Homo sapiens: one gene and its partner. The protein of the gene in region 2 interacts with the protein of the main gene of each other region in a biochemical or structural test. Each region holds a gene or a part of one and is shown on either strand. Other genes may lie near its edges.

Region 1 (4,511 bases), on a different chromosome or scaffold from region 2:
CTGGAGTGCAGTGGTGCGATCTTGGCTCACTGCAACCTCCACCTCCTGGGTTCAAGTGATTCTCCTGCCTCAGCCTCCCGAGTAACTGGGATTATAGGCGCCCGCCACCACACCCGGCTAATTTTTGTATTTTTAGTAGAGACAGGGTTTAAACATGTTGGCCAGGCTGGTTCATTGTGCTTTAAATACATCTACACCTATTCCAGTAACCATGAATTATGGTTAGTCAATAACTGCATGTCAATGCTTTTTAATGACTCCTCTGTAGGATAACTAGAAAGTTATCATTCCCAGGTTTCATCTCACCATCCCTTCAAAGCCTTCTTACTTCCATCTCCATCTACTGTGGACGTCCTCAGCCTGCCATCGTTGCTGGCCAATGCCCTGACTGGTTCAACAACACTTTTTTTTTTTTTTTTTGAGACAGAGTCTTACTTTGTCACCCAGGCTGGAGTGCAGTGGCGTGATCACAGCTCACTGCAGGCTCGACTTCCCAGGCTCAGGCAATCCTCCCACCTCAGCCTCCGGAGTAGCTGGGACTACAGGCATGCACCACCATGCCTGGCTAATTTTTAAAATATTTATTTTATTTTATTTTATTTGAGATGGAGTCTCATTCTGTCACCTAGGCTGGAGTGCAGTAGTGCAATCTTGGCTCACTGCAACCTCCGCCTCCTGGGTTCAACCAATTCTCCTGCCTCTGCCTCCTGAGTAGCTGGGATTATAGGTGCGCACCACCACAATGGACTGATTTTTGTATTTTTAGTAGAGACAGGGTTTCACCATGTTGGTCAGGCTGGTCTCGAACTCCTGACCTCATGATCCGCCTGCCTCGACCTCCCAAAGTGCTGGGATTACAGGCGTGAGCCACCACGCCCGGCCTTAAAATATTTATTAGAGATGAGGTCTCACTTTGTTGCCCAGGCTGGTTAGCAGCACTTTCTAGAATCCTCCTTTCCACGAGCAATTTTTACAGCCTTAGACTAAATGCCAATGTCCTAACTATGGGCTGCAATAGAACCTTAGATATGTTCAGTGTGACTGCTGGTATCACAGTTCTAAGCTTGAATATTATATTGTAAGATGGGAATAATGAAACTGTTGTTAGTTGTAGCAAAAATTGCTTGAGTTTATTATATTCTCCATTTCTAAGTGAGCAGTATTTGGAGTAAGATAAGCTGAATTTTGTGAACATCAAGTAAAGATTTTTTATTTATCCTTTAGGCAGAGAGCACAATTTTAACACCTATAGTGACGATATATCAGATTCCCTGAATGTTCCCTATGATTACACTTCAGTAATGCACTACAGTAAAACTGCATTCCAAAATGGAACAGAGCCGACAATTGTCACAAGAATCTCAGACTTTGAGGATGTGATCGGCCAACGAATGGATTTCAGTGACTCTGATCTCCTAAAGTTGAATCAACTGTATAACTGCTGTATGTGACAGGTTCTTTGAAATGACTTATATTTTCCGCTGTTATGTAGGAAAAAATGATGGTCTGTGCCATTTTGTCAAGCATTGGTGGGGTTTCTGCGATTATAGAGATTTGATATTCAGGAAATAAACAGAATAGCACTCAGATCTCAATCTACAACTTGGAAGCAGCATTTTTCTTTTCACCACGTCTGGTGTTGAGATCTAAAAACAAATTGGGTCCTGTAGGAATATGCCTCAGGCAAGTTTTTAAAGCTGTTACTAATTCAAACCTCGGTCAGATTGATACTCACACTTCCTTTTAGCCAAAATGATATGTCTAGTTGTAATATGAATGGGATCAAATAATCTGGATTGTGGCTTAATGATTCGAATAACTAGGGGAGTATAGACTCAGGTTTCTACAAATTAGAAAATTTTTTTTAAAAAAGACTTCAGGCAGGGAGCTTATTCAGATCTACAGAATTCATTACCTTCTTTGTAGGGGTTCTGCAAATAAAGAGGGATCTTTAAGCCACCATCATCCAGAATCAGCTAGGTGTTCCCTGTAATACCAACCTGGCATTTCTAATACTGTGATAAGTTCAGTTTTTGTTACTTAGATTATCATGTTGTATGAGTGTCAATAATTGTTTTTTGCTTTTTGTAGCCTCTTCCTTGAGTTTTATGGACTCGTGCAGTTTTGAACTGGAAAATGTGTGTGGCATGATCCAAAGTTCAGGAGATAATGCTGACTGGCAACGGGTTTCACAGGTTCCCAGGGGGCCAGAGAGTGATCACTCCAACATGGGCCAGTGCCAAGGTAACAGGAGTGAGATATTCCTAGACTGTATACTCAGTGGCTACAGCCACATACTTCTCTATGAAAGAATGGGATTTTATCTCTAATTTCTATCAGAATTATTAATGATTATTCATTAGGTTACTACTGAGAAGTAGGCCTTGCACCTGATAAAGACATTGTTAATTTCTTTGCTTTTCCTTCCTGAGTTTATTTTTCTTTCTACAAGTCAGAGCTGGGCTCTGTGATGCCTCTACCAGTGCGTTCCCATAGGAGAGTGTACCAGACTGGGCCTCCTGCAAGGCCTCTTATCTCAGGGGCAGTACTATTGTTTCCTAGAAGTTTGCAGAATACAAGAGACTCTTTCCAATGGACAGCACTAGGCTGCGAATTATTGTTTCAGAACTGTAGCTGGATGTGATTATATGCTCCTGTTACAAAAATATCTAAAAAGCAGAGTTTATTTAATTTTCTTCAGATGCGTATCCTTTTCCATTTTCATTTTGTTTTGCCTTAAGTAGTTATTTGGCTACAAGGACCAAATTTTTACGTATTTGCTTATTCTGGCATCAAATATGTAAAACTAGACTTCAGAACTTAGGGCCAGTGCTTAATAGCTCAGATGATCTAGGCAGGAATTGGAGGCCTCTAATGGCAAAAAGGTGCTTTTCCTTTTATTTTTCTTTTTAAATGCATATTTGGATAGTGGATAGTGGTCCTACTCAGACCAGAGGAAAGTAGATAGGGAGGGAGGGGGAAAAGAAGAAGAATCCAGACCAGGTAGCTCTCACTTTTTTCTGTTTTTGAAAACTAATTTCTGTGGTAAGGGAAAGGTTCCCTAATGTTGTCTCTTTCATAAATCGCCTGCTCCTAGAACCATATTTAAATGCCCAACACAATTCCCTGCATATAGTGGAAACTAAGCGAATACTTGAAATAAGGTAAAGAAAATTGGGCCGGGTGCAGTGGCTCATGCCTGTAATCCCCGGCCTTTGGGAGGCCAAGGTGGGCGGATTACCTGAGGTTGGGAGTTTGAGACCAGCTGGGCCAACATGGTGAAACCCTGTCTCTACTAAAAATGCAAAAATTAGCTGGGTGTGGTGGTGCATGTCTGTAGTCCCAGCTAGTTGGGTGACTGAGGCAGGAGAATCACTTGAACCCGGGGGGCAGAGGTTGTAGTGAGCTGAGATCATACCATTGCGTATCAGCCTGGACAACAGAGTAAGACGTTGTCTCAAAAAAAAAAAAAAAATGAAAGAAAATATATATACACTCAAACCAGAATTACTAGCTGTGCCTTCTTTAGAGATGGCTTAGAAGGTTAAGTATTGCAGATAATGAAAGCAGATAAGTGGGAGGTGCCTCTGAAATTATCAGGTTCAGTTATTCTCAATTTTTTCATTACAAGTATCATTTTAAAAATATTAAAATGTGAATCTCCCCAGATGGTTGCTGTAGTTAACAATATCTTCTGAAAGTTGAATTTCTTTCTTCCTTTTCTTTTTTTCTTCCTTCTTTTTTTGTGACAGTTTGAAGCCAAAGAAGTTAGAAAGTGTTTAAAAAAAAAAGGGGGGCGGGCAGGTCAGCCAAGGCCCTGGTTTCCTGGCTGGACTCTCACCTCTGTCCGCAGTGTGTGTTCACCTTTCCAGAAAGACCTAGAAGTTCACGTTGAATTACCCTTGGGAGACACAGATGCTACAACTCTCTACCCACCCAAGTTTCAAACCCTCGTTTTGACTTAATTTCCATTTTCCTTTTTCATATTCTCAGCGGGGGAACAACCCTCTGTAGCATCTTTGTCCAATGGTAGCTCTTTCCACTTGGAGCTGGACCAGGGTTTTGGACACTTGAAAGGTGTCCCATGTAGAATCTACCTTTTAGCCCTGCTGTTTGGGCTTGACCTGCAGCCTTACAGTGGATTTTTAAAAAGTTAGCATTTGATACTTAAACTTGCTTTATCTTTATAGCTCATAACAAATGAAGATAAGCAAGGATTAGTGCCCACGGAAAACTACTATTGTAAGTAAACGTTTTATAAATAATAGAGAGGTTTGAGTTTTATACTGTTATGTCAATCTGCTAGCTTTTGCAAGTGCCAGATATGTAGCTTAGGCTTCTGTCATTTCTCCCTGGCGATTTATATATGGATGTTACTTATGCCTCGCGTAAAGAATCTAGCACCACCATTAACAAACACACATTCCTATACCCAGTATCTGTTTTTCTCTCAATTCTGCTTTTCTTTAACAGGTTCTGGTTTCTTCATGCATTTCGATAGCAGCTCTGTA
Region 2 (5,155 bases):
CTCACGCCTGTAATCCCAGCACTTTGGGAGGCCGAAGCAGGCAGATCACGAGGTCAGGAGATTGAGACCATCCTGGCCAACACGGTGAAACCCCGTCTCTACCAAAAATACAACAATTAGCTAGGTGTGGTGGTGAGAACCTGTAGTCCCAGCTACTCGGGAGGCTGAGGCAGGAGAATCACTTGGACCCAGGAGGTGGAGGTTGGAGTGAGTCAAGATCGCACCACTGCACTCCAGCCTGGGCGACAAAAGCAAAAACTCCATCTCTAAAACAAAAAACAAAACAAAAAAACCCCTGATCCGCTGCAAGGATGCCCCCAGCCTTCCTGTCGTTTTTCCCCTCTCTGGGTCACAGGTTTTGAAGTCAACCTGATTTCCCCCCTCATCTCCTAGTGCCCTGCTTCAGATTTGGGCAGGTCTTGCTGAACTGGAGTCCCAGAAGAGAGCCCACAGATACAGGAGGCTGTGTCCCAGGAAGGAGACATAGGCCCTTCCTTCTTGAGGCCCCAGGAGGGAGACAGGACACAGAGACATAGAACTCTCAGTGAACAGAGCAGAGGCCCTGAGAGCTGGGCAGTTAGAGAGGGCAGGAAGAGTGCAATTGGGCAATCAAGGCAAGCTTCTTGGAGGAAAGGGGCAGGGAAGGGTGGATGTCAGGGGAGATCAGTCTGCAGGCAGGCTCTGGAATAGGTACAGAGTGGTGAGGGATTCGAGTTGGATTCCAGTTTAAACATCCACAGAGCCTTTAGGCTTCAGTAGCTAGTCCAGGGGAGGGGGGTACATGGAGGGTGTCCCTATGGCCTTGTCACTAAGAAAGAACAGTTCGTGACTTATCCACTGCGTGTGAATTCAGCGAGATTGGGGAGGGAGGTTTCTTAGGGATAGGGCAGCCTCCACACTCCCATTGCTCCTCTACTCAGGGAAAGGGGGACGGTAGAAATGGCCTGCCTCTCCGGCCAGCACACGTACAGCCATCTCACCCCCACACGGCTCTTCCTCCACAGCCCCATTTTGGATTACACTTCACCTCCAGCCACTCCAGCCCTGGGCGCTAGTACTACAGCTCCTGGGGAAACGCCCCGGGGTGTTGGTGCCCGACTCGTCCCCCAGCCGTCTTCGGCTTCACGGGGTGGGGGAGGGACAGCCCTGACCCCATCTGCTCTCCTAGGCTGCCTAGCAGGCTCCTGTCGCCGCTCCCCGCCCCTTCTTCCAGAGTTCCATCCACTCCTGCCCCCACTCGACCAGAGTTCCTTCCACAGCAGTTCCTGGCCTGGGCGCTGTCCAGCTCCAGGCTGGGTGGTCGAGTCTTCCCTGGGCTCCGAGCAGAGGGAACTCCGCAGCCCGCCCCAGCCTTGTCCTGGGGCGCCTCTGTCCAAGTCGGTTTTCTCTTCCCTGGCCCCCACGCCTCCACCCTCCACTTCTACGGGATGCCACCTCCACGAAGGAGAAAGGAAAGGAAATACAAAGGCATACATTCCGTTTCTGTGGAATTTGCTCTTTATTTTGGGACCAGGGAAGGACCACACACAGCCCTCCAGCCCAGGGGGCGGGGGCACCGAGACGCGGGCGGAGGGCCGCACCCGAACCCTGCCCAGACGCCGCCGTCGGGAGGCAGAATCCGGGTTTCTGGGGTCGGGAGTGCGTATGCAAATGACGTGGGCGTGGTTGGCAGATCTCCCAGGAGGCCTCAGGGGTCCTCACCACAGGTCTGGGCCCTCCGACCTGCGGAAGCGAAGGGGAAGGAATTGGATCTGGGGAGGCGAGCCTGGGAGACGTCGTTAAGTGATGTTGCCAGGGTAGGGCCAGGCCGCGCTCTCGGATGCAGGATGTGTGGTAACGGGCGCTTTTACCGCGACCTGACGGGGCGGTCCTCGCCGTCGGGGAAGAACGTTTTGGAAAGAAGCGTGTCCGGGCCGTCTCTTTTCCCATACCTGGGGGCGGGGAAGGGAAGAGCGTGGTCAGATCTGGCCACGCCCCCAGGTGGAGCGGGGCCGCAGGGTGAGAGCCCCAGGGGTCCCGCTCCGCGCCTGCGCTCACCGCTGCCGGGTGACCAGGTTGAGGTAGTGGCGCAGGGAGGCGTAGTAGCGGTTCAGCTCCTCCGGCGAGGCGTCTTCGCGGGGAGCCTCGGGTTTGATGGGGTAGGCGTCGACCAGCGCCCCTAGGCAGACGAGCAGGGCCAGAAGCACTGTGGTCAAGGCGGGCCACGGCCTGCGCACGAACACCATCTGGGAAGGCGACATTGGGACGTGGGTCATTCCAAGCCTCGACCCTACACGGCGGGAGGCTGCGGCTGCCGTCGGGGCCGCGCTCCGACGCTCTCCCTGGGGCTGGTACCGGACCAAGGCTCAGCCACCGGGCTTGCTGTGTGTTCTTGGGCACTGCACCGTCTCCTGACTCAGTTTCCTCATGTCAGAGGAGCATAAGCCCTGCCTGCCTCCCCACCCCCACCCCCGCTGCTGGCCTCCTTCCCACCTCCGATGGCCCCCTCCAATCCAGTTTCCTACCACTCACCCCCAGCTTCCACCATCCCAGCCTCAGTTTCCCCACAAAACAGCCTGGGTTTCCCCAGGCTTGAGCCCCCAGCCACTCACAGCGATAGCTTGTGAAGCAGACGAGCAGGAGGTGGAAGGCGAGGGAAGTCCCAAGGGCTGCACTGCCGCAGGTCAAGCTGAGGCCTCCTCTGCTCAGCGCTTTCCTTGTGGGGCTTATATCCCCGCCTGGAAAGGGAGGGGGAGTCCCAGGGGGAGGGGGAGCCAGCAGGGGGTGGGCCCTTCTTCCTCCCTCCTTCCACCCTCGCCAGATCGCTGAGCTTATACCCAGCCAGTGCGTGATGTCTCCACCTCGCAGGAGCTGAGGGGGCAGTTGCCATGCTCAGATTCGTGGTCTCACTGGATGGGGTACCCAGCCTGAACCCCATGTTCACCCCACAGCCCCCCAGTGGCAGGTCTAGCCTCCTGAGGAAGTGAAGCGGTTGGATCTAGACTCCTGGGGCAGCCCCTAGGACCAGGGTTGAGATTCTGTCTTCCCTAGCCTGTCCGTGGATGGGAGTTGGGGGTGGGAGGGTGGACACATTCCCTCCAGTCCGTGGGATGTGTGACCACTCTTTCCAAAAGACAACCCTTTTCAGCCTCTGTTCAGTAATACCTTGGAGAAGGGCTGAGGAATGACAGGACCTTTTGGGGAAAGTCTTTCTCCTGGAGGCAGGGTGGGAGCACCTGACCTTGGCTCCTGACCTGCAGTTTATGGTGTCTTGGGGAGAGGCCTCTCTGAACACTCCATTATGTCCTCTCTCTATTAAAGAGTTGGAAAAGAGGCAGGAGGAGGCAGAAACCAATCTCCCCGCCAGAAGCAGCTGAGTCGGCCACCTGTGTATCCAGACTGGCACACACAGACCCCAGTCCAGCCATGTGTGGTATAGAGCCCCCTCCCAAGGCAGAGTGTCTCCACCCCTATGCAGGTGTCATTCAGAGCACTGGTGTCTTCTGGGCCTGAGTGATGCCAAGGCTTCCCAGGCACATGCCACTGTCCCCAGCCCATGGCAGTCTCCACTGGGCTCTAAGCCCAGATCCTTTGAAGGAAAGGACTCGTGTTTATTAAGCACCTACTATGCACTAGGTAGTGCATAATTTCGGGCATCACAAGACGATGAGCTGAGTTTATCTCCATTTTCCAGATGAGGAAACTGAAGCCCTGGGAGGTGATGGAGCAGCCAAGCTCACCCACAATTCAAACAGGAAAAGCAGGGTGAGGCAGAACCCAGGAAGAGGACCTCTCAATTGTGAGGGGCAGAAAGGCTCAGCACCTGGAGTAGCCATTGGGGCGCCAGAGGCAGGCCTGGGAGCAGGGACCCGAAGACTAAGTCTAGGGCCCACACCCACTCTGAGAGGCGGAGTAGGGGAAGGACCTTCAGACTGCCAACCCCCTCAAACCCACCTGCCCAGGAGGAGAAAGGGCTGTGGGAAGGTCTCCCCATAAAGCCCTTCCAGCTTCCTCTCCCTGGCCTCGCCAGACCTCCAGTACTTCCAGATGTCCCATCGGCCCATAGGGACTGATGGGGCCAACTTGTCCAGGCCCTTGGTTCTGAGCCAGCCCCTCCAGCCCCAGGACAGATGGCTGTGGGCGCTATTTTTAGAGCTCTCCTGAGATGGGGAGTTCAGGGCTCTCTGTCACCATTTTATGGGTTCAATCACCTGCATTCTCCGGAAATGGCTCCTTATCAGCCAGTCAGGCCCCATGGGACTCCACATCCCAGGAAACACCAGGGTGCCCTGCTGAGCATGGGGGTGGAAGAGGACACCAGGACAAGGGGACATAGATCCTGCCCTTGGAGGGAGGAGAAAAATCATTCTTCTTAGGGAGCCCTCATCCAGGGGGCAAGACACACCCCTGCCCTTCAAGAACCCCAGTCTCAAAGGAGAGATATGGCCATGTCATAGGGGAGCCCCAGTATGAGCGGTTCCCAGAACAGATACAGAGAGACAGAGACAGCCTTTGTCCTGTTTGGAGGGGAGACAGCAGAAATCAAATAATTCCATTCCTCCATGGAAAGACAAAAGACAGGTGCTCACCCTAGGATGGAGGGAGCAGTGGGGGCTGGTTAGGACATCTGTGATCCCAGGGATCAGGGCCTAGAGAAGGACCCTGCAGGCTAACGGGGGCAAGGATACCAGAGAGTAGGGGGCTATTTGCTCTTCTGACCCTGCGGCGGCACTAACCATGGTGCTGGTAGGGGATTTCTAGTGCACCGATTCTGGACAGAGACGAAGGAAACTGTGAGATGGCCATGGGGAATCTGACATCCCTGGAACCCTGTCATGTCTTGGGGAATGTGGAGTCCAAGGACAGATGGGAAGAGAGGAGAGACACTGTAGAAGCTAGAGGGCATGGGGTGGCCTGAATTCGGGCTACAACCTCTGAAGAAGTCACTTCCTCATTTATAGCCAAAGTAAATGGGCCCCTAGGTGGTCTCAGTGTGGACCAGGAGCCAGCCGCACATCCCCGCAAACCCTCTCTATCCCTCATACCCCCACCCTCCAATCTCACTCCCCAATTACAGGGCAAGCTGATTGGTTCATTAATCACCGCCTCCTCATCGAAGAGCTTATTAACTTGTTGATTAGCGGGGAAAATGTCTCAGCCCTCGATCAATGGGCTC

What was found.
Region 1: of the proteins of PYY (region 2) and MEP1B, one has a biochemical effect on the other in vitro, tested with the Homo sapiens proteins (one study listed by BioGRID).

Annotation. Positions count from the first base shown.
Region 1 is NC_000018.10:32,206,028-32,210,538, forward strand, and holds part of MEP1B (meprin A subunit beta isoform 1 precursor), read left to right. Parts: intron 1-1,224; coding exon 1,225-1,443; intron 1,444-2,091; coding exon 2,092-2,244; intron 2,245-4,473; coding exon 4,474-4,511. UniProt on the Homo sapiens protein: Membrane metallopeptidase that sheds many membrane-bound proteins. Exhibits a strong preference for acidic amino acids at the P1' position. Known substrates include: FGF19, VGFA, IL1B, IL18, procollagen I and III, E-cadherin, KLK7, gastrin, ADAM10, tenascin-C.
Region 2 is NC_000017.11:43,951,259-43,956,413, forward strand, and holds PYY (peptide YY isoform 1 preproprotein), read right to left. Parts: upstream 2,683-5,155; 5' UTR 2,592-2,682; intron 2,226-2,591; coding exon 2,038-2,225; intron 1,932-2,037; coding exon 1,851-1,931; coding exon of another isoform or gene 1,847-1,850; exon of another isoform or gene 1,723-1,846; coding exon 1,698-1,722; 3' UTR 1,475-1,697; downstream 1-1,474. UniProt on the Homo sapiens protein: This gut peptide inhibits exocrine pancreatic secretion, has a vasoconstrictory action and inhibitis jejunal and colonic mobility.